Regions from separate parts of the Homo sapiens genome. Here regions 2 and 3 are each linked to region 1. The links come from fine-mapping of genetic effects on gene expression. A gene starts in region 1. Each other region holds a variant in brackets. All regions are shown on one strand. Distances are between the middles of the regions. Region 1 holds the start of PPP1CB-DT (PPP1CB divergent transcript). Region 2 has its middle 5.7 kb from the start of SPDYA. Region 3 overlaps PPP1CB (protein phosphatase 1 catalytic subunit beta).

Region 1 (2,762 bases):
TTTAGTTACAGAACAGGTACTCACAGAACTTGGGTTTGAGATACCGACACATACTTTGAGAAAAAGGAATTACCCCTCCCCCATTACAATATTCTTTGATGATTTTCCAAATATAAGTACATACTGCTTCACTCTAGCAATTATCTTAAGGTAATTTGAAAGCAAACAGTACATATGCAATCGCTGGACGGCGGCTAACAAAGAGGCCTCTAAATTGTTTAAAAAGGATTAAAGGCTTTTCTACACACTCACAAAACAATTATTGATGACGAAAACTTTAGGGTAGAGGGACTGTTTGGCAGAAGACTGCATTTAACTTTGAATAATATCCTGCAATGAATCAATACATTTAACTCCCGGCTAGTCCACCTCTTCGTTTTCCCCCCTTGCCTTCCCACCAACATAAAACTATTCAATAAGAACACTTGAGCCCGGAAAGTTCAAATGCTGCGTAGACCTACAAATACCTTTCGAATACAAGACAGGCTTTAAAAATAGATTTTCACTAAGTTTGTGCAGAAATTAAGCTCTGCTCAAATCAAATGCAAAAGCCAATCCCTTCAGCAAACCCATCTACATACATCACATTTCTTAGGTGCATCTTCAACCTGATCAAATATCTTGTCTTACAATTTTTTTAGGCCAAGTAACAAACGGTAGATTAATTCCCGCTAATTTTATCCTCTCTTTAAGAAGAATCCATTCTATATAGCATTGTGTAAAAATGCAGAGCAGACGAAGCAGTCCTGTTAAGGACAGGTTTATATATATATACGTAAAATTCACTCCCGGAACGACAATCGGAGGCAGCCAAGGGCAATGCACAAAGAGAACAGAGAAGAACAGTGATTCCACGGACGCACAAAGCCCAGTGGCAGGCATCCTCTCCCCATCCTCGGGTCACCGGAGGCGAGCACCACGGCGCGCGGAGCCCGGCGGCCTTTCCGAAAGGCTGTCTCCCGCAGACCCGCTCCGCACAGCCTTCGGCCGGCGGGCCTGGCCCCCGAGGGTCCGCGGGAACGGCCCCCTCTCCCCCGATCTCCCCTGACCGCGCTCCCAGAGGCCGCTCCCCCGCGCCCAGAGCCTCCTCGCCCCCTCCTCGGTTCGTCCGCCGCGCCGCGCTCCCAGAGACTCGTCTCGGGGCGGGAAAGGGGTCCCCTCGCGTTCCGGCGGCAGACGGGGACGCAGGGGTCGGCGGCGGTGCCCGACCTCCCTCTGTCCCGCGGCCAGGCGCGCACTCACCCTCCAGCAGCCGGGTGATGAGGCTGTCCACGTTCAGCTCCCCGTCCGCCATCTTGTCGGCACAGACTCTCCTTCCCAGCAGCGGGAACAAGGGCTTCTCGGCGGCGGAGGCTGCGGCGACGGCTCGGCGTTCTCTCACCTACAAGTCACGCGGCGTTTCGACCCCGGCTCCAACTCCCCCTTTTCCCGGGCCCTCCCCCCACCCCCTCCCCGCCGGGTAGCGAGAGCGCGCGCACACTCGGAGGCACCCACGGAAAATAAATAAATAAACAAGAGAGGCCCCCTCGAACAGGGCCGCGTCAGACCCAGGCCGCCACCTCCTCCTCCTCGGCACCGCCCAGCTCCGCAAAGCTCACCAGCGCCGCCGACGGCCCCACCCGCAGCGCCACTCACTCCGCACGTCCCTTGCGCGCCGCCGCGTCACGCAGCTCTCCGCGCAGGCGCGCGGTGCGCTCCCCGCCGAGGCTCCCCTCGACGCCTGGGCCGCCGCGCAACCGCACTGGAGCGGCTTCTCCCGCTGCCGTCTTCGCGCAGGTGCGTCGCCCTCTCTCCACGTCCACGGCGCCGAGTCTCGCCACGGTGGCGCAGGCGCCAGGGAGGTTCCCCGGCTTTGCCGCGCGGAGGAAGTCCCGGTTACGCAGAGCGCGCTGGGGCAGGGCTGACCTTCCCCTTTCTCTACTTCACTGGCCTCCTCCAGACGTGGTGGTTGCGCCCTTTCGGCCTCGCTTTCCGTTTTTTGGCTTCATCCCCTAGATCTGCAAACAGTTCCTCGTGTTTCTTCCGTTAGCCGGGAAACGCGAACTGCAGCGTTTGGGACCCGGGTTTGCGCGTGTGGAAAGCAAAAGGGGTTACTCTGCTGGAGTTCGACATTGCAAATAAAGGTCTTTATCCCCGGCGGTTCTACAAAATTAGTTCTGCAGGGATTCTGGTTGAAAGAAGCGTTAAAGTGGGCCTTGTAGGAGTCAGCAATAATCCAATTTTACATGGGTGCAGGTGGCTGCCTGTGTCTAGCGCTTTCACACATCTCATATCTTCATCCACGCCGTGGGTATTTTTTTTCCACGGTGTGTTTCTGTTGCTGCCTCCAGTATATTGCTTAATCATCCTACCTGGTAATTATTTATGCATTTTTCTCCTACTCTCGACTCAGCTCCTAGGGAATAAAAACACATTAACTTATCTTTGTGCCCACAGCACCCACCAAGTATTTCCATCACGTAATACTGCCTCTAGAAAGGCAGGAGGAGAAGCAGTCACGCTAAGGATCTAGGCAAGCCAGATCTTTTGTCCGGTTTTAGGAGGTGGCCAGCCCTTACTTATTCCACAAGTGTTTTTCCAGAAACTCAGACTTGATATTGCCTCAAGTCCAAGGCAGTGTGCTTCCCCCACTCACATATCACTAATAGTAGCTAACATTTGTTCAGATCCCTGTATGTACTCTGCCACTGTTTTAAATGTTACACCCGGGTTACCTCATTTAATCCTTACAACTGCCCTGTGAGGTAGGTACTATTATTATC
Region 2 (2,762 bases), 53 kb before region 1:
ACTGCCTATGACATACTTGTGCTAGATGAGGCAACAGCCTCTCCAAGTTCGATTCCTAGTTTTAAGTGCTCATACTTACTGGATGAATTCTGAAAGACAAAATATTACACAAATTATACAACTTTCCTAAAATATGTGAGGTGGCTCACTACAAAGGTGACATTAAGATCAAGAAAACAGAATAGAGACTATAGAAAGGGGAGGAAAGAAAGTAATCCTGAGGATCTTGCGATGTTTGTTCTCAGTAACAGGCAACTTCTCCACTATGCCTGTCAGGTGCTAGCTGCAAAATGCTCCTTCAAGAAACTCAGCCTCCCGAGTAGCTGGGATTACAGGTGTGTGCCACCAGGCCTGGCTAATTTTTGTACTTTTAGTAGAGACAGGGTTTTCCCATGTTGGCCAGGCTGGTCTCGAACTCCTGATCTCAAGTGACCTGCCAGCCTTGGCCTCCCAAACTGCTGGGATTACAGGCGTGAGCCACCGTGCCTGGCTGACTTCTTAAACTTACCAATAGTTTACAAAGTAGGGGCCAGAGTTTTGACAAACCATTTATTTTGGCAGTACAGACTCAAATCAATTTTCTCCTTGAAACTTCAGCATTCTTGTCATAAGAGACAAAAGCAGTTACATGAGGATAAAGAAAAACTGGAATTTTATTATTTGTGGTTAACTTCTTCAGGTCAAGGTGTCAAAACAGTAATACAAGTAGAGATTTTTGACACCCACTTGCCATTCATTAAGCAAGTATCTGCAGGCCTCCTATGTGGCAGGCGCCACTCTACGATAAGGAGATACGAATCAGTGAACAAAAGAGAAAAAAAATACCTGCATGGGCGCAATGGCTCATGCCTGTAATCCCAACACTTTGCGAGGCTGAGGTGGGCGGATCACTTGAGCTCAGGAGTTGGAGACCATCCTAGGGAACATGGTAAAACCCCCCACTCTACAAAAATTAGCAGGTATGGTGGCACATGCCTGTAGTCCCACCTACTACGCAGGCTAAGGTGGAAGGATGGCTTGAGCCCAGGAGGTTGCAGTGAGCTGAGATTGTGCCACTGTGCTCCAGCCTGGGCACCATAGCAAGACCCTGTCTCAAAAAAAAAAAAACAAAAAACCCTGCCCATAGAGCTACATTCTAGTCACATACAAGACTGATCTAGGCCTTATGACTTTTAAAGACAAATGTAACAAAGTTTTTTTTTTTTTTTTGAGACGGAGTTTCCCTTGTTGCCCAGGCTGGAGTGCAATGGTGCCATCTTGGATCACTGCAATCTCCACCTCCCAGGTTCAAGTGATTCTCCTGCCCCAGCCTCCCGAGGAGCTGGGACTACAGGTGCGCACCACATCTAGCTAATTTTTGTATTTTTTTTTTAGTAGAGACGGGGTTTCACCATGTTGGCCAGGATGGTTTCGATCTCTTAACCTCGTGATCGGCCCGCCTCGGCCTCCCAAAGTGCTGGGATTACAGGCATGAGCCACCGCGCCTGGCCGACAAATACAACAAAGTTTTAAAGGAGCATTCAACATCCTAATGGATCTGTATAAGAAATAATTGATGATATATTAAAAATAAAATGGGCTGGGCATGATGGCTCATGCCTATAATTCTCCCAG[C/G]ACTTTGGGAGGCCAAGGCGGCAGGATCACTTGAGCCTGGGAGGCTGAGGCTTCAGTGAGCTGTGATCAGGCTACTGCACTCCAGCCTGGGCGAGAGAGTGAGACCCTGTCTCAAAAAAAAAAAAAAAAAAGGGATTACAACTTGTGTTGTCAGTGAGCATACCCAGAGTTTGGGGAATTCACTAAAAGAAGATTAGGGTCTTCCACTCAAAACAGGCTTTACAGTACAGCAATAAAGACTTTTTAACCTGTTCTTTAATATGACCAATAGAATTAATTTCAGTGGAATTATCAAGCTGCAGTTAAGAGATGTGCTACAAAATCTGAGGCAATTACACTGGGAGGCAGAGATCTGTGTTTCTAAAATTTTTTTTTTTTTTTTTTTGAGATGGAGTCTCGCTCTGTCGCCCAGGCTGGAGTGCAGTGGCGTGATCTCAGCTCACTGCAAGCTCCACCTCCCGGATTCACGCCATTCTCCTGCCTCAGCCTCCCAAGTAGCTGGGACTACAGGCGCCCGCCACCACGCCCAGCTAATTTTTTATGTTTTTAGTAGAGACAGGGTTTCACCATGTTCGCCAGGATGGTCTCGATCTCCTGACATCATGATCTGCCTGCCTCAGCCTCCCAAAGTGCTGGGATTACAGGCATGAGCCGCTGCGCCCGGCTAAAATTTCTTATTGAAGTCAGGTAACAGTTTTATGTGCTGGGCCCAGTTATATGTTGGATCCTGAGCCTCACCCAAGATTTCCTGATAATCTCAATTCCTTATTACATGTGATAAACTACATTTCCTAATATGTAGCTTAATTTTTAAGTTGGTAAATTGAGTAGTTATGAGTTCTACAAGACATTAAGTTTTCTCCAGCAACTCCACCCTGCACATCCTCCTTCTCAGGGATTTTTATTAAACTAAGAGCTAGAGAGACAAAGTTTATATTTATTCAAGAATGGAACAGGTGTCAGTCTGTCAATAACCTGCTGGTAAACAGCAGCACTGTCAGAAACCATGCCAATTATCAGTTTGAGTTATACATATATTGGAGGTAGCATTTCAACACTCTGGTTTTGTTTCTTTGGCTTTTTTTTTTTCCAAAAAATATACTAGGAGATTTAAGACTTACTTCAGATTAAACTTGTTACATTAAGAA
Region 3 (2,762 bases), 46 kb before region 1:
GGATTTAACTTTGTTGACTATAACAGAGTATACTTATTACAATACAGTGTAGCACATCTTTCTATTAGAAAAAAATTTAAGATCCTTTACCCGTCTCCTTAAGTTAAAGGTGTGACATCATAAAGGGTGTCAAATGGCTGGATGGTTTTACAGTGCACACTTATATATTATGAAGTATGTCCTTAACAAATCTGATGGTTTCTTTACAGAATTCCTTTCTTCACCTTTTCTTCGGCGGATTAGCTGTTCGAGGTGGAGTGACAGGACGTCCAGAATTCAGTCCACCATACTGGTATTTAGCTTTCTTTTCAGATGGTTTCAATATCTTAAAGTAAATTATTAACAAATAATGTTATTTTTTCATGTACAGAAGTTAAGAAAATTGTTACAATTGTGATTTTCAATAAATGGCATAAACTGCAAAAATGCAATAAAAATGTAGAATAGCAAAGTTCCATAAACATTTCTTAAAGTGTGCAAATGTCTGAACTTTGTCATTCCACTCATATTTTAATAACAAAAGTACACTAACTCTATCAACTATCCAATCCTTAGATTTAAGTAAAAAACTTTTTGAACTTAGTGTATCTCTGTTGTGAGGAAAAGAACACTGGTTTAAGAGTCAGAAGATCTATGTTGTCATCATAATTCTGATACAGTAACTTAGGAGGGTAACTAACCTACAAGTCACAAACCCTTCAGACCTTATTTATTTATGTATAAATAGATCTTTTTACTTAAAAAACAGCTTTATTGATATAAATCTAATTTTAGAACATTTGTCACCCCAAAAAGAAAGCTTGTTCCCATCAGCAGTCACTCCCCATTCCTGCTCTCCACATCCTCTAACTCTAACCAACTACTAATCTACTATGTGTCTCTATAGAATTGCCTATTCTGAACATTTCATATAACTGGCATCATATAATATGTGGTCTTTTGTGACTGGCTTCTTTCACTCAGGTTTTCAAAACCAGTTTTGAAGTATCAGTCCTTCATTCCTTTTTATTGCTGAGTTGTACATTGTACAGTCCATTGTATGGATGTACCACAGTTTATCTATTCAGTAGCTGATGGACATCTGAATTGTGTGACTTTTTCGGCTATAAGGAATAATGCACATTTATGTAACAGTTTTTGTGTGAACATGTTTTCATATATCTTGGGTATATACCTAGAGGTAAAACTGCTGCATCATATGAGAACTCTATTCCCACCATTAATGTATGAAGATTCTAATGCCTCCAAATCCTTGCCAAAACTTGATACAGTCTGGCTTTTTTACTACACTCATTCTGGTGGATGTAAATAGAGCTTTAACCTACATTATACATAAAAAAGTCATGATTTTCCAAAACTAAAACAGTATAGAAATATGTACAAAGTATTTTTTAAAAACTATTTAGAACATAATAGTGCCTTAGTGAAGAGAATATATTAATCCAACACCACTATGACAACTGCTGGAAGGATAAGGTATGGTTACTATATTTAATTTGTAAATGAGCAATCAACCATTTACCATTCAATTGTACTAATTG[A/G]TGGAAACAGTATATTATGATAAAGAGAAAGAGGAATGGGAAAGCCCCAATGCATTTTAAGAGAAATACAGTGTGTGTACATCAAAGACATAGAATAGCCTTTGCAAAAGCAAAGTACTGAAGCTGTTTTACTCAGTGAACAAGAATGATTTGTAGGAGCACACTAAAGCTAAAACTGGCCTCTTTTAAAAATGTAAATGTTGAAACCAAAAGTTGGTTCTTCAAAAGAATAAACAAGATAGACTGCTAGCTAGATTAAGAAAAGATCCAAATAAGCACAATCTGAAATGAGAAAGGTGACATTACAACCAACCCCACAGACATACAAAATACCTAGAGATTATAAACACCTGTGCACACAAACTAGGAAACCTAGAATAAATGAATACATTCACAAAAACACACATGCGCTCCCAAGAAATGAATTCATAGAAACACACATGACCTCCTAAGAAATGAATAAATTCATAGAAACACACACAAACTCCGAAGACTGAACCAGGAGGAAATTAAAATCCTGAACAGAACAATAACAAGTTCCAAAACTGAATCAGTAATAAAAAAACCTATAAACCAAAAAAAGCCCTGGCCCAGAAAGATTCACAGCTGAATTATATCAGATGTACAAAGAGCTAGTACCAATCCTACTGAAACTATTCCAAACAATCCAGGAAGAGGACCTCCCCCCTAACTCAGTCTACGAAGTGAGCATCATTGTAATACCAAAACCTAGCAGAGGCACAAGGAAAAAAGAAAACCTCAGGCCAATATCCCTGATGAACACAGATGCAAAATCGTCAACAAAATACTAAAACCGAATCCAGCAACACATCAAAAAGTTAACTCACCACAATCAAGAAGGGTTTATTCCTGGGGTGCAAGGTTTCAACATATGCAAATCAATAAATGTGATTCACCTCATAAAATTAAAAACAAACACCATATGATCATCTCAATAGATGCAGAAAGGCTTTCAATACAATTCAACACCCTTTCATGTTAAAAACCCTCAACAAATTAGGCACTGAAAAATTAGGAACATACCTCAAAATAGTAAGAGCCATCTGACAAACCCACAGCCAACATCGTACTGAAAAGGGAAATGCTGGAAGCATTCCCCTTGAGAACTGGAACAAGAGACTAGGATGACCATTCTCACCACCCCTATTCAACAGAGTACTGAAAGTCCCTGCCAGAGTAATCAGGCAAGATAAAGAAATA

The links.
Region 2: its variant is fine-mapped to the expression of PPP1CB-DT in whole blood (TOPMed, PIP above 0.99).
Region 3: its variant is fine-mapped to the expression of PPP1CB-DT in whole blood (INTERVAL, PIP above 0.99).

What each region holds. Positions count from the first base shown.
Region 1 is chr2:28,750,657-28,753,418 of GRCh38, reverse strand. It overlaps PPP1CB-DT (PPP1CB divergent transcript), which reads left to right and starts at 1,663. Exons shown (of 5, transcript XR_007086259.1): 1 at 1,663-1,776. It overlaps PPP1CB (protein phosphatase 1 catalytic subunit beta), which reads right to left and starts at 1,589. Exons shown (of 8, transcript NM_002709.3): 1 at 1,243-1,589. The coding sequence starts at 1,294. RefSeq lists silencers at 937-1,156, 1,647-1,836 and enhancers at 1,019-1,663, 1,967-2,176.
Region 2 is chr2:28,803,800-28,806,561 of GRCh38, reverse strand. No RefSeq gene overlaps it. Among named protein-coding and RNA genes, the nearest start is that of SPDYA, 5.7 kb to the left of the region's middle. The variant C/G (reference allele first, on the strand shown) is at 1,615.
Region 3 is chr2:28,796,762-28,799,523 of GRCh38, reverse strand. PPP1CB (protein phosphatase 1 catalytic subunit beta) reads right to left here. Exons shown (of 8, transcript NM_002709.3): 8 at 1-325. The coding sequence ends at 221. Among named protein-coding and RNA genes, the nearest start is that of SPDYA, 13 kb to the left of the region's middle. The variant A/G (reference allele first, on the strand shown) is at 1,542.